Linked DNA regions of Homo sapiens: regions 1, 2, 3 and 5 are each linked to region 4. The links come from fine-mapping of genetic effects on gene expression. A gene starts in region 4. Each other region holds a variant in brackets. All regions are shown on one strand. Distances are between the middles of the regions.

What was found.
Region 1: its variant is fine-mapped to the expression of CYB5R2 in whole blood (TOPMed, PIP above 0.99).
Region 2: its variant is fine-mapped to the expression of CYB5R2 in sun-exposed skin (GTEx, PIP above 0.99).
Region 3: its variant is fine-mapped to the expression of CYB5R2 in lung (GTEx, PIP 0.98).
Region 5: its variant is fine-mapped to the expression of CYB5R2 in blood mononuclear cells (TOPMed, PIP 0.97).

The regions. Positions count from the first base shown.
Region 1 is chr11:7,646,610-7,650,727 of GRCh38, forward strand. It overlaps PPFIBP2 (PPFIB scaffold protein 2), which reads left to right. Exons shown (of 24, transcript NM_003621.5): 18 at 1,778-1,928; 19 at 2,191-2,302; 20 at 2,538-2,626; 21 at 2,923-3,045. Among named protein-coding and RNA genes, the nearest start is that of CYB5R2, 25 kb to the right of the region's middle. The variant A/C (reference allele first, on the strand shown) is at 2,319.
Region 2 is chr11:7,634,211-7,638,328 of GRCh38, forward strand. PPFIBP2 (PPFIB scaffold protein 2) reads left to right here. Exons shown (of 24, transcript NM_003621.5): 13 at 285-342; 14 at 1,342-1,383. Among named protein-coding and RNA genes, the nearest start is that of CYB5R2, 37 kb to the right of the region's middle. The variant C/T (reference allele first, on the strand shown) is at 1,818.
Region 3 is chr11:7,905,252-7,909,369 of GRCh38, forward strand. LOC283299 (a long non-coding RNA gene) reads right to left here and starts at 704. Exons shown (of 8, transcript NR_036678.1): 1 at 352-704. It overlaps LOC107984307 (a long non-coding RNA gene), which reads left to right and starts at 1,071. Exons shown (of 3, transcript XR_001748116.2): 1 at 1,071-1,415; 2 at 1,911-2,084. RefSeq lists enhancers at 248-1,447, 249-792, 793-1,336, 2,425-2,968. The variant G/T (reference allele first, on the strand shown) is at 2,149.
Region 4 is chr11:7,671,058-7,675,175 of GRCh38, forward strand. CYB5R2 (cytochrome b5 reductase 2) reads right to left here and starts at 2,443. Exons shown (of 9, transcript NM_016229.5): 1 at 2,362-2,443; 2 at 1,691-1,834; 3 at 1,394-1,466. The coding sequence starts at 1,768. RefSeq lists enhancers at 2,056-2,105, 2,126-2,225 and a silencer at 2,746-2,955.
Region 5 is chr11:7,595,033-7,599,150 of GRCh38, forward strand. PPFIBP2 (PPFIB scaffold protein 2) reads left to right here. Exons shown (of 24, transcript NM_003621.5): 5 at 2,528-2,641. LOC105376535 (a long non-coding RNA gene) reads right to left here and starts at 2,148. Exons shown (of 4, transcript XR_007062579.1): 1 at 2,066-2,148. The variant C/A (reference allele first, on the strand shown) is at 1,770.

The DNA.
Region 1 (4,118 bases), 24 kb before region 4:
AGCTACTTGGGAGGCTGAGGCAGGAGGATTGCTTGAGCCCAGGAGCTCAAGGCTGTAATAAGCTGTAATTACATCACTACACTCCAGCCTGGGCAGCAAAGCCAGACCCCATCTCTAAAAATAATTAATTACTAACACCCTGTCTCTAAAATAAATACCCCATCTCTGAAATAACAAATACCCTGTCTCAAAAAAGAATCAAACTATAGAGGTACATCAAGATTTTATATAATGAAATATTTCTAGATTTTGTGATTTTTTTTTCAGTTTTGCAAAACTTGCAATTTTTTGTGGCTTGTTTTCTAATTCTAAATATTCCCTTTGTTTCTAATTGTATATTCAAATTTTATACTATTTTGAAGAGAAAGTTTGTAAGTTCCAGGCCTCGTAAAATATTTTCAGGACCCATGAAAGCCCAGGTTCCAGATTATGATTGATCAGTCCCTGCCCCAGGGTATACATTATCTCTAACATTTGATCTAAAATGGGGCATTCTTATCATGCTTATCCTTTGAGGAATTCCCTCACTTTAACAACAGCTCAACCAGGCATTTAAAAAAATATGTTTTAATCTAATATGTTAGGGGTACTTTGAAGGAATCTTTCTGGTCTTTGAAGGAATATCTACGATATTCTATAAATCCTCATTTATGAACATAAAGTTGCTCTGTCGAATCCCCCCTAAAAAAATGACTCTATTGGGATTTTTAGTGTGCTATTCACACTTTAAATGAAAAATGGATGTCTTTAAGAATTGATGGCTTTATAAAACCCAGTCATCCTGTCTAGGAACATAATCTAGCTTTTCATTTATTCATGTCCTTTTTTATCTAGCTCAGTTGACTGCTGCAGTCAATACCTCTCCCCACCCCCGCAATCCCCACACATAATCACACAAGGCCAAACATCTCTTGTTAAGGCAATTCCTAGACGTTTTATAATGTTGGTTGCTATGAGTGGGATTTTTAAATTGTTTTAACAGTAGCATTAGTATCTGTGCATTGATGGTATTAGAAAATTATTGATCTTTGTATGTAACATACGTTACATATGTTTATATGTGTATTTCGTAAGTGGCCACCTCACTGAGCTTTCTTGGGTTTTCTAAATGGGCAGTCCTGACATCTGTAAAGAATGGCTTTATTTCTGCCTAATAGCTATACTTCTTGTTCTTATTTATCTCTAATACTGGCTATGACTCTCAGACCAGTGTTGTTAGTACTGATGAAAAATATATTGTCCTTTTATTGACTTTAATGTGAATGTTCCTCCTGTTTTGTTAATAAGTAATGTGCTAGCTGTTGTTGATTGGCAAGTTTTTGCTTTTAGTTTTGGGTGTTTTGTTTTTTTTCTTTTTAATGTTAAGAGAACTGACCCTCTTAAATGCTAAGAAAAGTAGTTTTCTAAGCATTTTCCTAAAAAGATGATTCCGCCTAATGAGGCCACAGCTCTGGACTTGTGGCATGTATATGTGTGTATGCGGACCTAGGACATGTGAACATGATCTCAGGAGGGCCATACAGGCTGCCCCATTCTCTAAGTAGCCTGAGATTTGAAATTCAGATCTTGTGTTATTAAGAAAACTCTAGGGTCTACCTCCTATGAGTGTGTTGTAGTGGAATTTTGTTCAGCAGAATCCCATGATGGAGGTTGTTTGTTAAAAAACAGGTTTTTTGTTTTGTTTTTTCTTTTCTTTTCTTTTGTTTGTGAGACATGATTAGATTCAGAACCTCAGGCTCTCCCACTAACAGGAATATGCTGTTTTCCTGCTTCCCAGTGACGCCAATGCCCCCTTTGCCCAGTGGAGCACAGAGCGTGTGTGTGCATGGCTGGAGGACTTTGGCCTGGCTCAGTATGTGATCTTTGCCAGGCAGTGGGTATCTTCTGGCCACACCTTATTGACAGCCACCCCTCAGGACATGGAAAAGGTAAGGGCTCAGCTTGGGGAGAGGAGGCTCCCATTTCTCCCCAAAGCATGGGGAGGCCAGGGTCCGCCACTCCTGTCACACATACACACAGGAGGATGGATGGAGGAGGCTGAGAGTTCCTCTGTAGCTGCAGGTTGGCATCCCAGGGCACGGTGTGGAGATACACTGCCATACTCAGAGCATCTCCACCCAGACACAGCTTTCTCTGAGGGCCAAATTGCCTGCCAAAATTTCACATGTGGTCTTCATCTTTTAATTTCAGGAGCTAGGAATTAAGCACCCACTCCACAGGAAGAAGCTTGTTTTAGCAGTGAAAGCCATCAACACCAAACAGGAGGAGAAGTCTGCACTGCTAGACCACATTTGGGTGACAAGTAAGGATAGGCATAT[A/C]TGTATTAAGAATGTCTCTGGCAGCAACTAAGAGTAGAAAGAATTTTCCTGTTAAATGGGTACCTCAAGGACAGCTGTCTCCTTGTAAAAAGCAGAGGAATTACTAAACTTTTGGGGGAATAAAACGAACCTCAAAATATAATTTGCTCCCCTTTTTTTGGTGTCTACATTCTCTCATTCTCATGAATCCTGACACATCTGGGGTTTTTGTATTTGTAGGGTGGCTTGATGATATTGGCTTACCCCAGTACAAAGACCAGTTTCATGAATCTAGAGTTGACAGACGAATGCTGCAATACCTAACTGTGGTGAGGACTTTTTCTTTAAATATTTCAGTTGTCCCTGTGAGCACTCAGCTCACGTGTACCCATGGTGGTTATTTTAAACTTGATTCCATATATTCTTAAGGCCTTGAAATAGTATCATTTGTCACAAAAGAGGTCCCAAGTAGCAGAGTACAAACCACTGTGATAAGCTATTGGTGTCTCCACGTGCACCTTCCTGAGATGTGGTTGACTTGTCTATGCTTGGTCTGGTGAGGGACATCAGGGGTCTTTTGTCACTTTGGAAACTCTGGTTTATAAACCAAACTTTCCTCTTTCAGAACGATTTACTCTTCTTAAAAGTCACCAGCCAACTACATCATCTCAGCATCAAATGTGCCATTCACGTGCTGCATGTCAACAAGTTCAACCCCCACTGCCTGCACCGGCGGCCAGCTGATGAGGTGAGACCACAAATAGTATCTCTCCAGGTAGCCCTGAGCCAGGACCCCTGAAACATCGAGCATGAGCAAACAAGAATGACATCATAAAAGCACTGTTTTTTGCACCATGGTGCCTGGGATTCTTTTGTTTGCTTGTGCTTCCTGTTGCCCCAAACATCCGTTACCTGCACTTTGTGTCTCACAGTAGCCATAGACCTCTAAGCTCCCACCCTCCACTGGGGAGACACATGCTATAAAGTCATCATAGTGATTAAAGGAGATGAGGAGATGGTGCAAAGGAGAGGGGGAGGGAAAGACAAAATGGAAAGATGGGTGTCACAGTAGAAGAGAAGAGAAGAGACAGAGGAGGGGGAAGAGGAGCCCGTAGAAGCTAGACATTTCAGAATAGGTATCCCTACTTGTAGATCCAAAATTAACTGACTTCCAGGCCCAGGTACAGGGGATCCATGAGTAGTCTTGCTAGAGAAGAAATAGTATACGTAAATAACAGCACCCCAAGTCTTGAAGAAATAACTGATTATGTTCCATGAACTTCGGAGTTCTTGGTGGACCCCCAAACTGAAGATTGTCAGTCACATCCTATCTCCTCTGTTCCTGGGAACTAGGTCTAACCTTGCTGTAAAATTAACTCAGCTTCCTGGGCTGCTACCTTTGCTGTCTATCTCCTATTTTCTCCTTATTCAACCAACATGTTTTGAATGTCTTGTATATGTCAGGCACAGCGCTGTGCATTTTTAAGACCACAGTGCTACGTGAGAGCACTTAGGAATAAGTACCTTAAGGTGTGCTCCCCTAAAATCATTGGCCACACCAGGGAGATCTTTCATCTATAAACCACTTGGATTGTAAAATTGACAGTCATCTTTAAAGTTCTGTTGAATCACTGAAAGAATAACTATAATGTCCTCATTTATTTGTCTCAAAGTTAGCTGGAAAATGATGGAGTAACAGAATTCTGGATTCAGATATCTCAGTGTGGAAGATCTTCAAAGATTCAGTGGGAGCTCTATTTCCTAGAAACTGGGGAGGCTGGTGCTCTGGCAGATGGGGTGGGTCACTAAGCTTGAGGGCCT
Region 2 (4,118 bases), 37 kb before region 4:
CAGCAGAATTGAGTGTATTCTGGCTTTTTGTGCAATGCCAAGAACATTTCATTTGGATTTAAGTGACCCTGTCATGCCCTTACTAACACATTATTGGACCAGTCTGTCCCCCAAGGTGGGCCAGTCTCATTTTGTATGTAAAGGCTATTATGAGAGGGTATTTTTTTTTCTTGACTTTGAACCTAAGCCCAAGACCATCGGTTAAGCATTTGAAATGTCCTCTGCATGAGTGATAACATGTACCTCCTTCTCATAACTATTTCTTTCTTTTGTGTTTTTTTCAGGGCTCAGAAAAAGCTCTCTTGTAGTCTAGAAGACTTGAGAAGTGAATCTGTGGATAAGGTCGGCTCATCAACCTATCCTTAAAGATGACTGAGTTACTTTTTTGGGCCTAGCATAGTACTGGGATATACAGGCAGGTCCTGGTCCCTACCTTGTAGAGGATTTTATAAAGTTGTAGAGGAAGCAGGAATTACATGAACATTTTGAGAAAATTAACTGGGTGTGGCCCAAAGCATCTTAGAGGAAGGACAATTCAGGAAATGTTGCCTGGAGTTGATGAGAGAAGATGTTGAGATCAGCAAAGCTTGGTTAGAGTCTGCTGAGCAATAGCAGGTTTTGGAAGATGGTGGAGAGTAGGAGGAGGTAAGGTCAGAGCCATGAGACAGATCAAGCCAGGGAAGATCTTGACTACTAGTCCTATATCCCTGGGGCACTTGGGGACATCGTATAGATTTTTTTAATGATGAATTAATGTGAATAAAGGAGATGATCCCAAGGAAAGATGTGGGATCGTCAGGATGTTGGAGAGTGAGCTGTTGTAAGAGTCTGGAAAGATGGAGGAGGGTCTTGTGGCTCCTTATATAGGAGTAGCCCTTGATCATGTGGGTGGACCTCATGCTGCAGGGGACAGTAGCAGGCTCTTGAGCTTGGTCATTAGAGACCAAGGGAGCCTGCCCTGATAGAGACCCTTCAGTGAGCCTGTGCTGCATACCATCCCTTGGTCTCCAATAATGTTCATCAGCCTCCTTGTTGATACAGTGGAGAACCATAAAGGCTGAAGTCTGCAGGAGCCCTGGGATCATTCAGTGGCTCTGCTCCCATGGTCACGTGTCTCTCGGTTGCCATGGTCATGTTGCTGGCAGCTGCCCAGGACATCTGTCCATGGAGTTGGACAGGGATCTTTCCTGCCCTGGATGGTGATTACTTGACATGAAGATGTGGAGGGAGGGGATGCGCCTTTCAGATTTAAGCAAACAGGTAGTCCTGAGTTGTTGCTGTTTGTGAATAACACAAGTCTCTTTTTCTCCACATAAACGAAATCCTCATGTTACTCCATAGTGTATGGATGGGAACCAGCCCTTCCCGGTGTTAGAACCCAAGGTACATTGACTTCGTGCCCCGTCGTCTATTTGTGGTTACACTGTTTGCTAGTATTTTAATTTAGCAAGTCATAGTTTTCATAACCTTAAAATGTGCCAACTGTAAGGAGTAAGAGGGCAAGAGGAAAGACGCAACTTTTCTCTCCCATTTTATTTTTATGTGCACTCAGCTATTTAATATGCTTTTGCTATCATTATCTGTGGGACAGGATTTATTATTATCACCTCCATTTTATAGGCTCAGAGAAATTAATCTTTAACAAAGTAATCTAGATTTAATCACTGGGAAGGGGATTGCTACGATCTCAGCACACTGAAGAACGTGACAGCTCTCATCCTTTCTGTGCTGATATGTCATGGTTAAAAAAACACAAGTGTACACTCAGTCCCGCTTTGATGAACAAGTTATGTTATAAAAATTCCATTAGGACTGAT[C/T]TTCTCCAGGGAAGCCTGTTGTGGAAGAGGATTAAGTTTTTAGGCCAGTGCACAAAATGTTGAGCCCATAAAGAAATGAAGATTCATATAATTAGCATGATTTCAGCCACACCCAACCACCATTTATAACATTATATGGAAAATGTATTGTGAGGCTGATGGCATTTCCCTTCTCTGTCCCCTGCCTCCATGTCCATATGAAACATGGAGCTTCTCATTGCTTGCTGACTTCTGCCTGAGAGGGTCATTTTATATTTTCACGGTAAAATGGGGCATCTCTGCTCCTCCACATCTGCGTAAGAGAAAGATCTTTTCTGCACGTCTGCATCTATATAAGGGGCTTCTCTACTCTTCCATATTTGTAGCAGTTGGTTCTTCAAGTGGGCAGCCATTCCTTGGGCCATCTGAACTGTATAGCAAAAGTCTTCTGCCTGCTCCCCTGCCCAGGTGCTCTGCAACACAGTCCCTTGAGCCTGGGGTTGGTGTGGTCCCTTTGTGAACTGAAAGGCTTCCTATGGCGTCAGCTGTTAAATCGCTCAGCAGTCCCCCCTCCCACCTCAGCGTCACAGAGGTCATTCGCAGGTGTTTCTAAAGCACACCTGTAAGTGACCACCTGCTCCTTTGGAAACACACCCAGCTCACAGGCTCAAGGTTTAAGACGCCAATTTGATTACCAAGAAATATAAGTAACGTAGAACTATTTATAAAGAAAAAAATGCTCCAGATTAAAAGATTAATTCTTACATGGTTTTGGCCATAATCACAATCTTATACAACCTCAGTTATTCAACATGACCACCCTCCCCTCTCACCCACATACACCACCGTCCTCCCCAGAATAGCTACACAGGTGCAGAACCGCTCCACAGTCATCTTTCTGCAGCATCCCTAACTGTAGTGTCTGGCCCTTGCTTAAACTGGCTCTTGCTTTCTGTGACTGAGAGCTCATTTCATTGGAAGACATCCTTTGTATTCTTTTGCAGCTGTGTGAGCTTCTCTAAAATGTGCATCTGCTGATCCTCTCCCTCCACATCTAGCCCATGGAAAAAGTCAATCTCCCCTACTCCTGACAGCTCTGGAATTTAAGTCCCTCATGCCCTCTCTGAGTGCTCTGTTCTCTGGGCTGAACATCACCTTCTCATGTGCATGGATCACAAGCCTTTTAAGCTGCTACTTAGTCTTCTTAGGCTCAGCGCTAGTTTCTCAATGTATTCTTCAAGTTCTGCCCTGGACCAGACTTGGAGTGTGATATTCTAGATGTAGTCTGACCAGTGCCTGCCGTGGTCTAAGGACTCCTCTTCTAGATTGCTATTTCTTTAGGCCCTGGGTATGTGATATTTCCTGTGCTTCTCCTTATCCACTGTCCGCTGTGTGCTAGGCCCTGTGGATATGTTATTTCCTGGCAAACCTGAGGTAGGAATTGTTATTCTCCATTTAGAAATGACCAGAGGTCCTGAGAGGTGGAAGAGAAACAGCTCTGTCTGAGTTGGTCTGACTCAAAGCCTAGGCCCTTTCCACTCTGGCATGCTGCTTCTCTGTTGTAATTTAAAGCAGCTGGATAATCAGTTCTACACTACTCCCTTGGCTGGGGCTTCTGTTCCCCTACAGCCAGGAGGATTGTTCTTTTTGGAGACAGGAGAAACAGAACTGGAGTTGAGCATCCTTGTTTCCTCTGCGTCACGTCTTGACATTGCACTGCCTTCCACATCAGTGAGTCATTTCTTCCCAGCCCTTATTCTTGGCCTGAGCAGAGCTCAGAGAGCCCTTTCCATTGTCCTTGATTCCTTTTTGCTGTCTTTCTTACAGGTCGGGGCTGCCTTTTAAACCCCATCCTTGGGTTAGGTATGTGTTCTCCTTGCATCTCAGCTCCTCAGGGAGCTCCCCGGGTGGCCCACTTGCTTCCTTGGCTGTCTCTGCCCTGCCTTGAGGGAGCATGCGTGATGATGCAACCAGAAACACGTTTTTGAGAGCTCTTCCCCCCTCCATATGTCGTATATAATAGGGAGCTTGGAGTCATGCCCTTCAGGTCTCTAACATCTTTGAACACTACCTTCTCACAGTCAGTGGTTCCTGGGTCTGACTGCATTAGTATAATCTGAGATAATCTGAGATCCTTGTTAAAAATATAGACATCTGGGGTGTGCTTCCAGAGGGACTGAATCAGGGACTGGGCACTGGGAATTCATGTTGTTTTACAAGTGCTCCAGGTAATTATGAAGAGCAGCCGGCACATGAACTACCACTTGGAAACTGTGGGTCTTGACCGTATGTCTGATCATGTCTAATCTTCACCTCATGGGT
Region 3 (4,118 bases), 230 kb after region 4:
GAAGTACAGTACAAACTAAACTCCAAGTGGAGAAAACAGAAGAATCAACTTCAAGACCTTTTTGATGAGCCTGTTTTAATCCTTCTCCTGCTCTATCCCAGTTTTCCACATCAAGAGTGCCTGCCTGTGGAAACCATGAGTTATGCATAATAACTTTGTGTGGCTTCTGCAGGAGGTTAGTGTCTGAGAATTAACCTGAGCTCCAGACTGTCTCAACAGAACTTTAAGCAACTGCACATAATGTTTTTCTTCAACAGACAAGTTATTCCCCCTGCTACCCTGATTCAGAAAGCTTCCCATTCCCAGCACTTCTATAAAGCACTGCTCCCAGTACCTCTTTAGAGCACTGACCTTATATATGCTGCCGGCAGACTCATCCTGGGGTCCCCGTTTGCCTTGTCAATTTCAGCTTCTCTGCTCCAGCAGATCTTTTTTGTTCACATCGTCGAAGTCCCGTGTTCAGACGCCACTTGTTGGCATCCTTGGCGTCCCTGTTCTGAGTCACCACTTGTTGAGAACCCAATTGTGTCACTGTTTGGGGCACCACTATGTAACCTGCATGGACCTAGGGGGACTGAACAAAGGGGGCAAACACGGGAATAAAAGACAAGAGGCAAAAGAGTATATTTGGAAGAAGGGGTCGGAGGGCACCTTGTCTCTAGTGGACAAGGGCCCTGAGCTTTACACTGCCCTCCATATTTATTAGGCAATAGAGATAGTGAGAAGGTGGGGAGTGGTTGTTGGCCAGCAGCTTGATTCGCAGCAGGCTTGCAAGACTGCATTCTTAGGTGCTAGACTTCTCAATAGATAACTTCAAGGAGCCCAGCGCCAGGGAGTGAGGCCCTCAACAAACCTTTTGGTGGCAGGGCAGTGTGAGTTTGCCCACATCCTGCATTCATGATAAACAGTTTGCTGTTTGATCCTATAGCCTCCAGCGAAATGCTGAGTTGGTCACTTCCCAGGGGCCTTCAGCTCCCTGCACCTCACATTCTGTATTTGTCCTGATTAGCCAGCAACTTAGAACTTTTTAAAAGAGGCAAAGGCAGAGGAGAACAAAGGAGGAAGTAACTTGTGGAATGCTGAGAAAGGTAAAAACACCTCCAAATAAGGAAGAGGAACAGACTATGACTTAATACTTGCTTGGACCAGTGTAAGCATGCCAGGGCAAATATTTAGGCTAAATTGTGGGAGCTAAGAACACAAAGTACATTGATTTCTTTATTATAGCTAGCAGATATCTAAGAATGTTAGCACAGGTCTTTGAATAAATTTTGTTTCTGAGAGAAGTTACTATTTATTCCTAATTAGACGGGGAGGAAAGTCTCTTTGAAGAGGAACCTCTATTTTATTTTTACACTCAGAAGCCCGGGCAGCTCTGCCGGGAGTGCAGGGAGGCAGCTCTCCTGGGGGTGCAGGTAGGCAGCTCTGCTGGGGGTGCGGGGAGGCAGCCAGGCTTTTGTTGCACTTCCATCTACTGGCAGCACACACAGAAAGGAAATACTCCCAGTGGCTAGATTCCACCCATCATATCATTGGACTGAGTGAAAACTTTCAGAACTCTAATTTAAAAAATGAATGCATTCATGAATATTACTAACCTAACATCCAGCTGAATAATAATTAAATACATGGGGCTAGCCTGACAGAGGGTGGAAATGCTTTCTTTAACTTTTCTCTTTGAAACATTGCTGATTATTTTATGTTTTGTTTTCCAGAGTCAAGAAAATGTCTCTTTTTAGCTAATTATAGCTTACAGCAACTGGGTAACCTTTTGTGAGCAAAATTAAAACATCTGCATTTCTCCCTACCTGATTTCTCTAAAATTTGGAAACTATTCATGAGTATTTGTATTTTGTGGCAATATAGTTATTTGCATAAGATCAATAAGAATCTGTTTTCTTTTGTAACAGAACACATTGGATACACCGGTTATTTTACCAAGGCTTTGGCTGGAATGTTACATTTTTGAATGTGACCAAACTGCTTTGAGGAATTGAGGCTGACTTTATAAAGCCAATAGACATGGGAAAGACTGGCCTCATGCCTTGCCCACACGGTTCTCTTACAAGGTTCCTCAGCTTGCGGTAAGTAAAGACTGTCATTTTCTGATGCACCCAGGAACCACAAGATATTTTGGGTCATTGAGAA[G/T]ATAGGAATTCACTCAATTTTTACATATGTTACAAGCAGTCCCACAGTGAATCCCTGGCTTGGCTTACTAGTCTTTAGAGGTTTTAAAAGTGTAATCTGAGATTTCTTATTAAAAATTCTGCAAAGTCAATGGAAAAGAGCCTATATGGCCAATCATTCTTCTTGTTGCACATTTTGCAAATAATCAGGCCAAGTATAATACTAAAACTTATTTAGCCAATAAATTTGTCCTACTAACATTTATATTTGGTAGGAATGGGGAACTGGGGAGAGAAAAAAATTGTTTTAGAAGGAAACTATACCATCCTTCTTATAAGATTCTAGCCCTGACCATTGTTTTTTAGTTGTTTTTTAGTTTTTACTATTTGTCTACAATTTGGACTGAATTCTGAATAATGTCCCAGCTCTAACAATCCTCCAAAGAAGAAATTGGATTTAATTTCCTTCATGATATTTTTAGTTGACTCCCCAGTAGAATAGGTTTTGTTGTTGTTGTTCTGATATACAAATTCTTTTTTTGATTATAATTCCTATATGCATTACATATATCTCTTGTTTTACTTCTTCCACAAAGACTAAACTCATGATATTCTGAAGACTAACAATGATTCAACAAGCAACAGCAACTACATACTTGACTGAGGTGCCATTTTTGCCACCTGTGATGCCATCTCAATTTGGCTTTTGACAGTCTTAAAATTCCTCATTGTAACATTTCCTCACCTCTCCTTCCCATGTGAGACAGCACCATCATGAGCCTTCTCAAACTGAAGGAGGAAGGATATTGATCACTCTAACCTAAGCAGAAATTGATCATTAATGTTTCCATGGAAAGATTTTTGATCAACAGGTGGGAAATGAGAAAAAAAATTGCTCAGAGCCATCTAAGTTATGTGAAGCATACAAAATTTGTCAGGCCCAGAGAGACATGAGTATGGTTATGGGACCTCAATCACACCTCTCACACCCATACCCAGGGCCAACTGTTTAAAGACATTTTGTTCCTGACTAGCTGCTTTGCCCATTATCTTCATGTTCCTGGAGTTTGTGATACAAAGAACAGTGTATAACCAATCAATAGCTTATGTTATTTTAATGTAAATTCTTGGTAAACAACTTGGGAACTGCCTCTTTGTTTCCTTTAAAACCCACTTGTAACTGCTGCTCATAGGGGTGTATATTCAGGTTAACTTGCATCTACGCTCTTGCGTTGCAGTGTTCAAGCTTAGTCCAAATGAACTCTCTACTTACATTGTTTGCCTCGATTTTTTTTCTTCTTTCCGTTGACATATCAATGCAAGGGACCGGAGCAAATATTCCTAGACTGAAACAGATTAAATGCAAGAAAGAGAAGAAAACTTGAAAATATGCATTATCATTGTAGAGAGACTCAATGATTTTTAAAAGAGCATATTCTCAAAAAAAAAGAGATCAATTTTAAAACAATATAGGGGAAATCTTAAAATGGTTTTAAAAATAACTCTGTGGAGAAATGGAGTAACAAAATAGATAACACTGAATACCAAATGATGAGTTAGAAATTCACAGAATGAATTTGATTGAAATTCACGTAAAATTAATGAGAAGTAAAAATTATCATGAAAAAGATAGGAAACATGGAGAATTGATCTGATAGCTCCAATACTCATAGGAGTTTAGATTAAAAAGCAGAAGTGGGGTGGAAGCTATACCCCAAAATAAAAAAGAGCAGAAATAAAAGCAAATCTCATTTTTGCTACACTGGAACTAGAAAACAGTGAAATAATGTTTAGAGTTTCTTTCTTCTTCTTCTTTTTTTTTTTTGACAAAGTCTCCCTCTTGTCCCCTAGGCTGTAGTGCAATGGTGCGATCTCAGCTCACTGCAACCTCTGTGTCCTGGGTTCAAGTGATTCTCCTGCCTTGGCCCCCTGAGTAGCTGGGATTACAGGTGCCTGCCACCACACCCAGCTAATTTTTTTATTTTTAGTAGA
Region 4 (4,118 bases):
AGCTGATTCAAGGGGATGAGCCAAGTCTTTGAGGTGCCAACACTCTGGGCTCAGAACAGGCTCAATGACTCTGGTCATGGTCCCTCTGGGCACCAGGGATAGCCAGGAGTAAGTGAGACACCTAGCTTCCTTCTGAGAACCTGAAACTGGAAACCTGGAAAGGCTCTTTCATATGCAGCCACCTAGGCCTGGCCTGAGGGTGTCCCCAGGGCAAATGGGGCTCCCTGGCTGGTCCTTCAAGCCCCATCTCTAACTTGCTTCACTTCCACTGGGCTGGGACGAAGCAGCGAACTCTGAGGCCTCATATTAGACTCTCCCAGAGGCCTCTACATTACCTTGTCCCACTAACTTTGCACGGCCTAGGCCAAGGCTGAGGAGATAGTGGGTCAAGGCAGTTTCTAAGCAATTCTCTATCTCAAAGTTTTTCATTCTTTTAGGCTTCCTGCCAACAGGACCTGCCTGACAGGCCGAGCAGGGAGCTGAGAGACGGCACGCACAACACTGAGCTCTCGTGCATAGAGATGGAGTGAGGGAACAGCAAGGAGGCTCAGGGGCCCAGCGAGCTGGCTAGAGTGTAATCTCACCACCTGATAGAGCTGAGGTCAAGGTTTTGGCCTGTGCATATAAGACAAATAGGCCACGGAGTAGGATCCACCAGGCAGGCAAGCAGCACTAGCAGATTATACAAAGCTGCTCTGAATCCCTGATTCTAGCAGTTTTCTACTGCACTAAGACTGACTCAGCTATCTAGTGGTGTTACAGATTAGAAATGGGATAACTCAACTCTAGGACTCCTAGGGCTGGAATCTGCAACTCGTAGGGCTGGTCCCTCCTTATGTGGGTCTGAGGCCCCTGCAGAGAATCTAAGTGACCTTGGGGGCAGGGCACACCTGACTCATTCCTGCCTACCCGCACATTCTGGGCCTTTCCCCGACCACTGGTTCCTCCCATCCCTCCCAGGTGCACAATACTTTGTAGTTTCTGAATTTTCATATCCATCAGTCACTCTACTTTCACAACAACCCAAGTGAGGTAGACAGGCAGGCCTGGGAAATCCCATTTCATAGACTGAGGCTCAGAGAGATTGAAGGACTTCCCTTAAGTTCCCCAGCAAGGAGCCTTCCATGAGATTTTAGGCCTTTTGGCTCTAGGTTCAGTTCTTTTCAATGCTCACTGAGGTACCACTCTCGTGTCAGCCCAATTGGAATAATGAAGAAAAGAAATTTTCTGTCCCACATCCATCCCCCTATCTATCTCCCTGAGCTCACAGGCTCAGGAGGAGCAAGAGGGCATCTTCCACACCTCAGGACGTGGGAAACCTGTGTTTCTGTTAAGAGAGGAGGGCCTAGCCCCCAGAGGCCCCAGTCCTGGTGATGACCCAAGCCCGGCTCACCTACAGGAAGCCCTAAGACATGGTCCGGCGAAGGCAGTCCAAAGCGGAACCTCCGGGTGTTGTGGCTGATTTTCTGATAAAACAAAACATAGGCAGGTTCTGTCAGCTTTCTAGAAGCCTTGCTGGGCAGCTGAGATGCCTGGGAAAGGAGGTCCGTTTGGCGCTATTCCAGCACACACACACACACACACAGGGCGGCGGGGAGTGAACTGGAGGCCATGAGATGACTGTCTGGATGCCCTGCCATCCCAGCCATCATCCACTTACTGCCTTCCACCCACAGGGCTGACCCATTACCTCTTTCTCAATCAAGGGCAGCGGGTACTTGGCTTCAGGGTCCTGTAAGGTGATTGGCTCTCTCCTCCTGGAGTTCATGCTCTTCAGGACCAACACGAGCACAGTGACCCCAGTGACGGTGATGGTCAGGAGCAGGGACGGGTCCTGGCAGACACAATGTGAACAGAGCACCTCAGGTCTTGCCCGCCCTGGACAGGGCAGCTCTCAGGCGCAGAACACCCTCCCCACACCAAAGGCACAGGAGCTGAGCTCTGCCTGCAGGAAATAGGCAAAGAGAACAGTAGTGACACAGAAGGCGGCTGGGAGAGCCTGTCGTGGACCAGAGGGTAGGGAGGGGTCAGCTGCAGGTCACACAGGAAGGATGTTTCAGGCCCCTGGAGCAGGCAGCACACATGGCCTGGGGTGCTCAGGTCACTAGGCCCCTCCTGGCTACAGCCAAAGGTTCATACACTGGAAGTCCCTTCCTTGAGGTGAAGGGGGAGGACATCACCCCTAACACACAATCCGGAATGAGGGGCCCAGTCCCTAAAGACAGAACTAGGGTGCGTAGCTCTAAGAGGTGCCCCGTGACTTAGGGCCTGGGGACTCCCCAACAGTCTCCTGGACAGGGCGAAGGGGGCCTGGGCACTCAACTGCCAGAGACTCGGGAGCCTCCCCGCATCTGTCCCTACCCTACAAGGCCGCCCTGCTCCTCTCCCAACTCAAGCCCGACAGGGAAAGTTGCCTCTCCTCCCGCCGGGTCACTGGAGTCTCAGCCTTCCGGAATCCGAGCCGGCCCGCCCCACTCCCCGCCCTTCGCGGTCCCGCCCACGACCTCTCCCCACGCCTCCCGCTCCGGCCCCCAACCTCCCGGTCGGACGTTCGTTCCCGGCTCTAGCCGGCCTCCGCGCCTCTGGCCTCTTTCCTTCCGGCCGTCCCGACGGAGATATTTCTTCAATACTCCATAAATACACCCCGCCGCGGAACCCACCCGGAGTGAGACGCCCAACACGTCGTCGAACTGGGGTTGGCCGGGGGCCGCTCCCCGCCGCGGGCCCGCAGACTCGTGGCGTCGCCCCGCAGCTCCGCCTGGCCGACGGGGAACCGGCCGAGACCCGGACACGCACGCCCGGGAGGACAAAAGCGCGGGCGGACCCCGCAGGCTGGGACCCCGGCGGCTGGCCCGCTCCCCGAGAAGGGCCGTGGTCGGGGGGCTCTCACTCACGAGCCGCTGGCTCTGGGTCAGCCCTGCCCCCAGGGCAGCGCTCCATCATGAGGCTGGCGGGGCGCTGAGCCGTGGCGTCCTCGCTCCTGCGCTGCCCCTCTGCATCCTGGCCCCTTCCCTGCACACGCAGAGCTGCCACACTGAGCGCCCCTCAGCTTACTTAAGCTCGGCAAGGCTGGAGAAGGCCGTCTGGGTGACCGGGCGGAGGGGGATGCTGGGGAAGGAAGAATTCAGGCAGCTGCAAAGAGCGCGCGAATATATTCATTCGACATACCTCATGGGCGCCTACCCTGGGCCTGGTCCGGGGCGGGTGTTTGCGGGGTGGGGCCGAAGCAGGGGCGTCGCCGAGTTGAAGACGTGTACTCCGAGCGCTCCTGCGTTCATTCATTCGCTGGGTGGAGAGAGGAAGGACAAGAGCCCCGCGCCGATCGGAGGGGAGCAGAATAGTAGGCACAGTTAGAGGGTCTTCACGGTGCGTTTCGGAACCTTGGCTGCCCGGCTCGCCCTTGATTACAGGCAAAGGCAAATTCTTGCCTCAGGACCTGTGTGAAACAGAGAAGCCCAGAAGCAGATCCCCACCTGTTTGACTCTGCTAGGGCTGCTGTAACAAAGTGCCGCAGACTGAGCGGCTTAAACAACAAAAATTTATTGTCTCGCAGGTCTGGGGGCTGGAAGTCCAAAATCAAGGTGTGGGCAGAGTGGGTTCCTTCTGAGGGCTGTGAGGGAAGGATCTGTTCCATGCCTCTCCTAGGTTTGTAGGAGAGGGGCTAGGAGAAGGGGCATCTTCTTCCTATGTCTCCACATTTTCATCCCTCTGTGTGTGTCCCTGTGTCCAAATTTCCCCTTTTATGAAGACACCAGTCATATTCAATTAGGGTCCATCCTAATGACCTTGTTTTAACTTGATTACCTATGTAAAGGCTCTACCTTCAAATAAGGTCATATCCTTAGGTACTGGGGCTTAGGGCTTCAACATAAGAATCAGGGTGAAAACAATAACCCATAACACTTTACCAACCCTTCTCCCCAAGACACACACCACCACAGGCTCAAAAATTCTTGCTGTGTGAATGAATAAACAAACTTAATTTTCTCTCTTTGACTTAATCAAATGCCTTTACTTTTGATTTACCTGCAGGTGCTTGGTTATTATAGGCAGATATTTTAATTTTTGACAATGCGATAAGTGTAAAATGATGTATCAGGAATCCAATTTGCATTACC
Region 5 (4,118 bases), 76 kb before region 4:
TGTAGTAAAAGGAAGATCTCCTTTACAGGAGGAAGCCAAGGAGGGAGCCATGCAGATACCTGGAGAAGTGCATTCCAGGCAGAGCAGGCAGTCAGTCCAGCCCACACACTGAGGCAAGAGTGTGCTTGGGGTGTGGGAAGAACAGCAAGTGGCCATTGTGCCTGCAGTCTGTGCTCAAAAGGGTGGTGCGAGCTGCCTTTAGAAAGGTAGCAAGGGCCAGATTGAATAGCACATTGTAGCACAGATGTTTGAGGGATGTGTAATTTGAAACTCTTATCCCAATGACATGATTAATGAAAGAGTATCCAATGTAAGATTTTGCAGCAAACAGTATGAAATTGCAAACTTTTGAACCAGGACCCTTCATGATTGAAATAGCACATTCCTATTTACAGAGGATTACAATTTAATTTTTCAAAGTCCTGTGTAATAATGCTCCCTTTCACATTCATAGTTTTCTAAAATTCCAAATTCTTGAATAATCCCCATTTAAATAATCCTAACACAATTGGGAAGCTGCTTGCCAGTAAAGTCAGAAGTTGACCCTAGTAGTTTCTACTCTACTGGGAGCTTATGGGCAGACTCCAGGAGTGTCTGTTAAGTGATCACTGCTGTTCTGCAGTGGAGCTGGTTAGGCAGATTCTCAGCAGGGTAGAGCCTCTTGCTTAATGCACACAGCAGCTTAGCCAGACTGAATTAATTTAGAGTCCTTGGCCCAGAAAGTTTTCCTGGTTCTACTCATAGAACAAGGCAAATCACACATAACAAAATACTTTGTTTCTAGGATTAGTTAAAAACAAAACCAGAATCTCTTGTATCTTCATTATAATGTAACTCCTTAGGAAAAGGATTTTTATCCTTTTTTTTTTTTTTTAACTTCTGTATCCTCCAGTACCTAAAATTATGCCTAGCATCTATTAGGGTCTCAAAAATAGTTGTTTTTAGTGAACAAAGGTCACATTTTATGACCTTTATGTATTTTGTCTGGATTTCCTACATCCCTTCATTTGTAATACTTAGAATCAGCGTTGAGGTTCAGAAAGCCCCTGGAGCTGAACAATTAGCTATAGAATGCTAGAGATCCTATGATTCCTTGAGTATCACCAACACATGGCCTCAAGGCATGGTATAGACCATAGAAATGTTTAACCCTCATAATAAGATTAACCAGAAAACATCCTTCACAAACAGAAACTCTGGATTCCAGTGAGCAAAGCCCACCCCCAGAGTCCTGCCCTTTTGAAAGTAGAGTTAGTTCAGGATGGCTGAGAGTGTTGGGCCACAGGGATTAATAAACACCCACCCACAAAGGTTTGCGTGTAAGGTGGACCAAGTTGATAGAAAGAGCCCGTTCTTGTTTTTTTTTTTTTTTTTAACATTTTTTTTGGTTAAAAGTGGAATGTTAACCATGTGTCAACTCCAGGAATATGTTTCAATAATTCATTAATCATTTGGGAAAATAAAAATGGAGATCTTAAAGTAGGCATATTAATTTAGATTAGTTCCTTTTTAAACAGGCGCTTTATAATTCAGAAAGTTTATCTAAACACTCATAAATGAATTCACATCAACTCATGCACCATCTATTATTCCATTTCAGACTGAGAAATAATTCTGGATAATCTATATGTAAATGGCAACAACTCTAACCAAAAAGGTCTAAAGGATCTCAGTTTATCAACTGCTAATTTCTTCACTTTGGGGAGGACACTCATTCTCTCTCTTCTTGCTTTGAACCATCTCTTAATAAAGAAAAAGGATCCTGGGGC[C/A]GTTTGCTAATAGAGAAGGCTATGAAAACCATTGTTAATATATAGTTAGTGCATAATTTGAATGACTTCCTGTAAATGAGTTTTTACTAATTAATATTTTTAATAGGGATTCTCAGCGTTCTTCAGAAAGATGACTTTTTTTCTGCCACCGTATGTGTAATGTGGCTTCTCTATATTTATGACTTAGAGTCATGTTTTGGCCTGTGAAGCACAATAACCTTTCTGGAGCCAAGTTTTGTCAGTGCTAATACATGCCCTTTACAGCCCACATTCCTTAATTGCATCAAAACACTCACCTGATAGGTGAGCAGTCCTCACACCCTTATGAGAGAGGTAAGGTCATTGGTTAGTTTCCATGAAGTTTGGACCGCTCTTCCACACGAGGTTGCAGAAGTGCTGGCAAGCCAGCTGAGATGTGCCTTGAGGTCGGGGCTGTTCTGGAAGAGGAATAAGGAGCAGGAGTCCAGCCCAGAGGCAGCTCCTGTGGCTGTTGGGTGTTTTACTCTTGAGTCTATCAAGAGCAGTAAACGTGACCCATGTCATCAGAGCAGTGGCCGAGACTCCCTGGTAAGGTAAGAATCTAACTGCAGCTGCCTTCGTTCAGGACACTTCCTCCACCTGCCACTCAGCAAAAATCAAAATCGTTCACTGTGTGTAAGAGTCAGTGGTGAGATTTAACGGCTCCCCTGAGGTGGGGAGGCTTTCCTGCACCATGTCAAATCCCTGGTCCTCCACCATTGCTTTATTTCCTGGAACAGGTGAGTGTCCTCACAGACCAAGTAGAAGCCCAGGGAGAAAAGATTCGAGACCTGGAAGTGTGTCTGGAAGGACACCAGGTGAAACTCAATGCTGCTGAAGAGATGCTTCAACAGGTAAGGGCGGGTGCACTGAAGGCCCTTGGGTGCCGAAGCAGCTCATGTGCTGAAGCCCCTTTGTGTGCCCAGGCTACAGCCCTCGCTGTCTGCTTTCCCATCCTGCCTGGGGGCGGGATTGGCTGCTCAGTTGTACGGTGTTTATACAGCAGGTGAAACCAACCTGAACGTTGAGAGTGGCAGAGGGGGTAGGGAAGGGAAGGGCTGCCCTGAGATGAATAACCTGCTGAGCTGGTTAGACAGATTCCCAGACAGCACTTTCTCCAGACCTGGTGCAGTGAGGGAGCGCTCGGCTGGGGGCCTCACCCTCATCCTGTGGGTGCCATCTGGAGTTTTAGAAAGTCAATTCTCAGCTGATTCTATGCCCCTTTCCCATCTCGCTCTGCCTCTTCCTACTGTATATAGTTTTTAAAATAAAAATATTATATAAATAACCTTTTAGTATAATTTAATAGATATCAAAATGGAAAAAGATATTTAACTGTTCCCTACCATTCAAATAATGTCTTCTCCTTGTTTTCTTTTTGTCCTTGTTATGTGTACATGTACTTTCCAAATCTGTAATCACAAGAGATATGCAATTTAGTCCTCAGATTTTGTATGCTTAATATTATATTTTTCCCATTTAAAATTTTTGCTGTATTGTCATCTTTACTATCACCTATAATAGATTTTCTTAGTAAAAGTATCAGAATTGACTTAACTTTTTTTCAATTCCTAAATATTTTTACTGTATTATAAATAATGAGCTACAATTTTTTAGGAAGGGGTGTTGAATTTTTATTGTATCAAAACTTCAGAATTTGTTGAGAAGCGAATTAGGTTTTTAAATGAAATGTATTAATATATCTAATCTTAAATTTTCCTTAAGTCATTCTTACATTTTAAGTTATCTTGAAAATTAAACAATGACTGAAGTTTATGTGTGTATGCCTTATAACTCCTGGCATAGTACTTGGCACATAAAAGGTACTCACAATTACTTAAAGAACAAAAGTTTGTTCCTTAAAATGAGTGGATTCAATTAGAGGACTACTTATAATCTTTCCTCCAAAAGCGCTAGCATTTTTTTTTTAATTGTCATGATCAGCATAAGACTCAGATTGTTTCTTGACAGCATACTGGTGAACACAGGCTTTGCATTTTACCTTTGGTCTCATGACAAATGTCATGAGAATTAATCTGGTGTTTGTTAGTTTTGTTTGAGTGCCTTTGAAGAACTTTATACAAATGTAAGTCAGTGTTTTTATATATATGTCTTCATAAAAACCCGTTTCAATGATTCAGGAACTTTTGTTTGTTATCTTTTCATTGCTGATTAATAAATTACCACATTCTTGGCGCCATTTGATTTTCTACTTAGGTTGTGTGCCATTTCTCTTGTTCATAATATTTCCTAAAAATCTGACTAGCAAAAGGAATTGAGGCTTTTTTTTTTTAATTGAATCTTTCTTTTGAAGACCCAGGAAAGAAAATA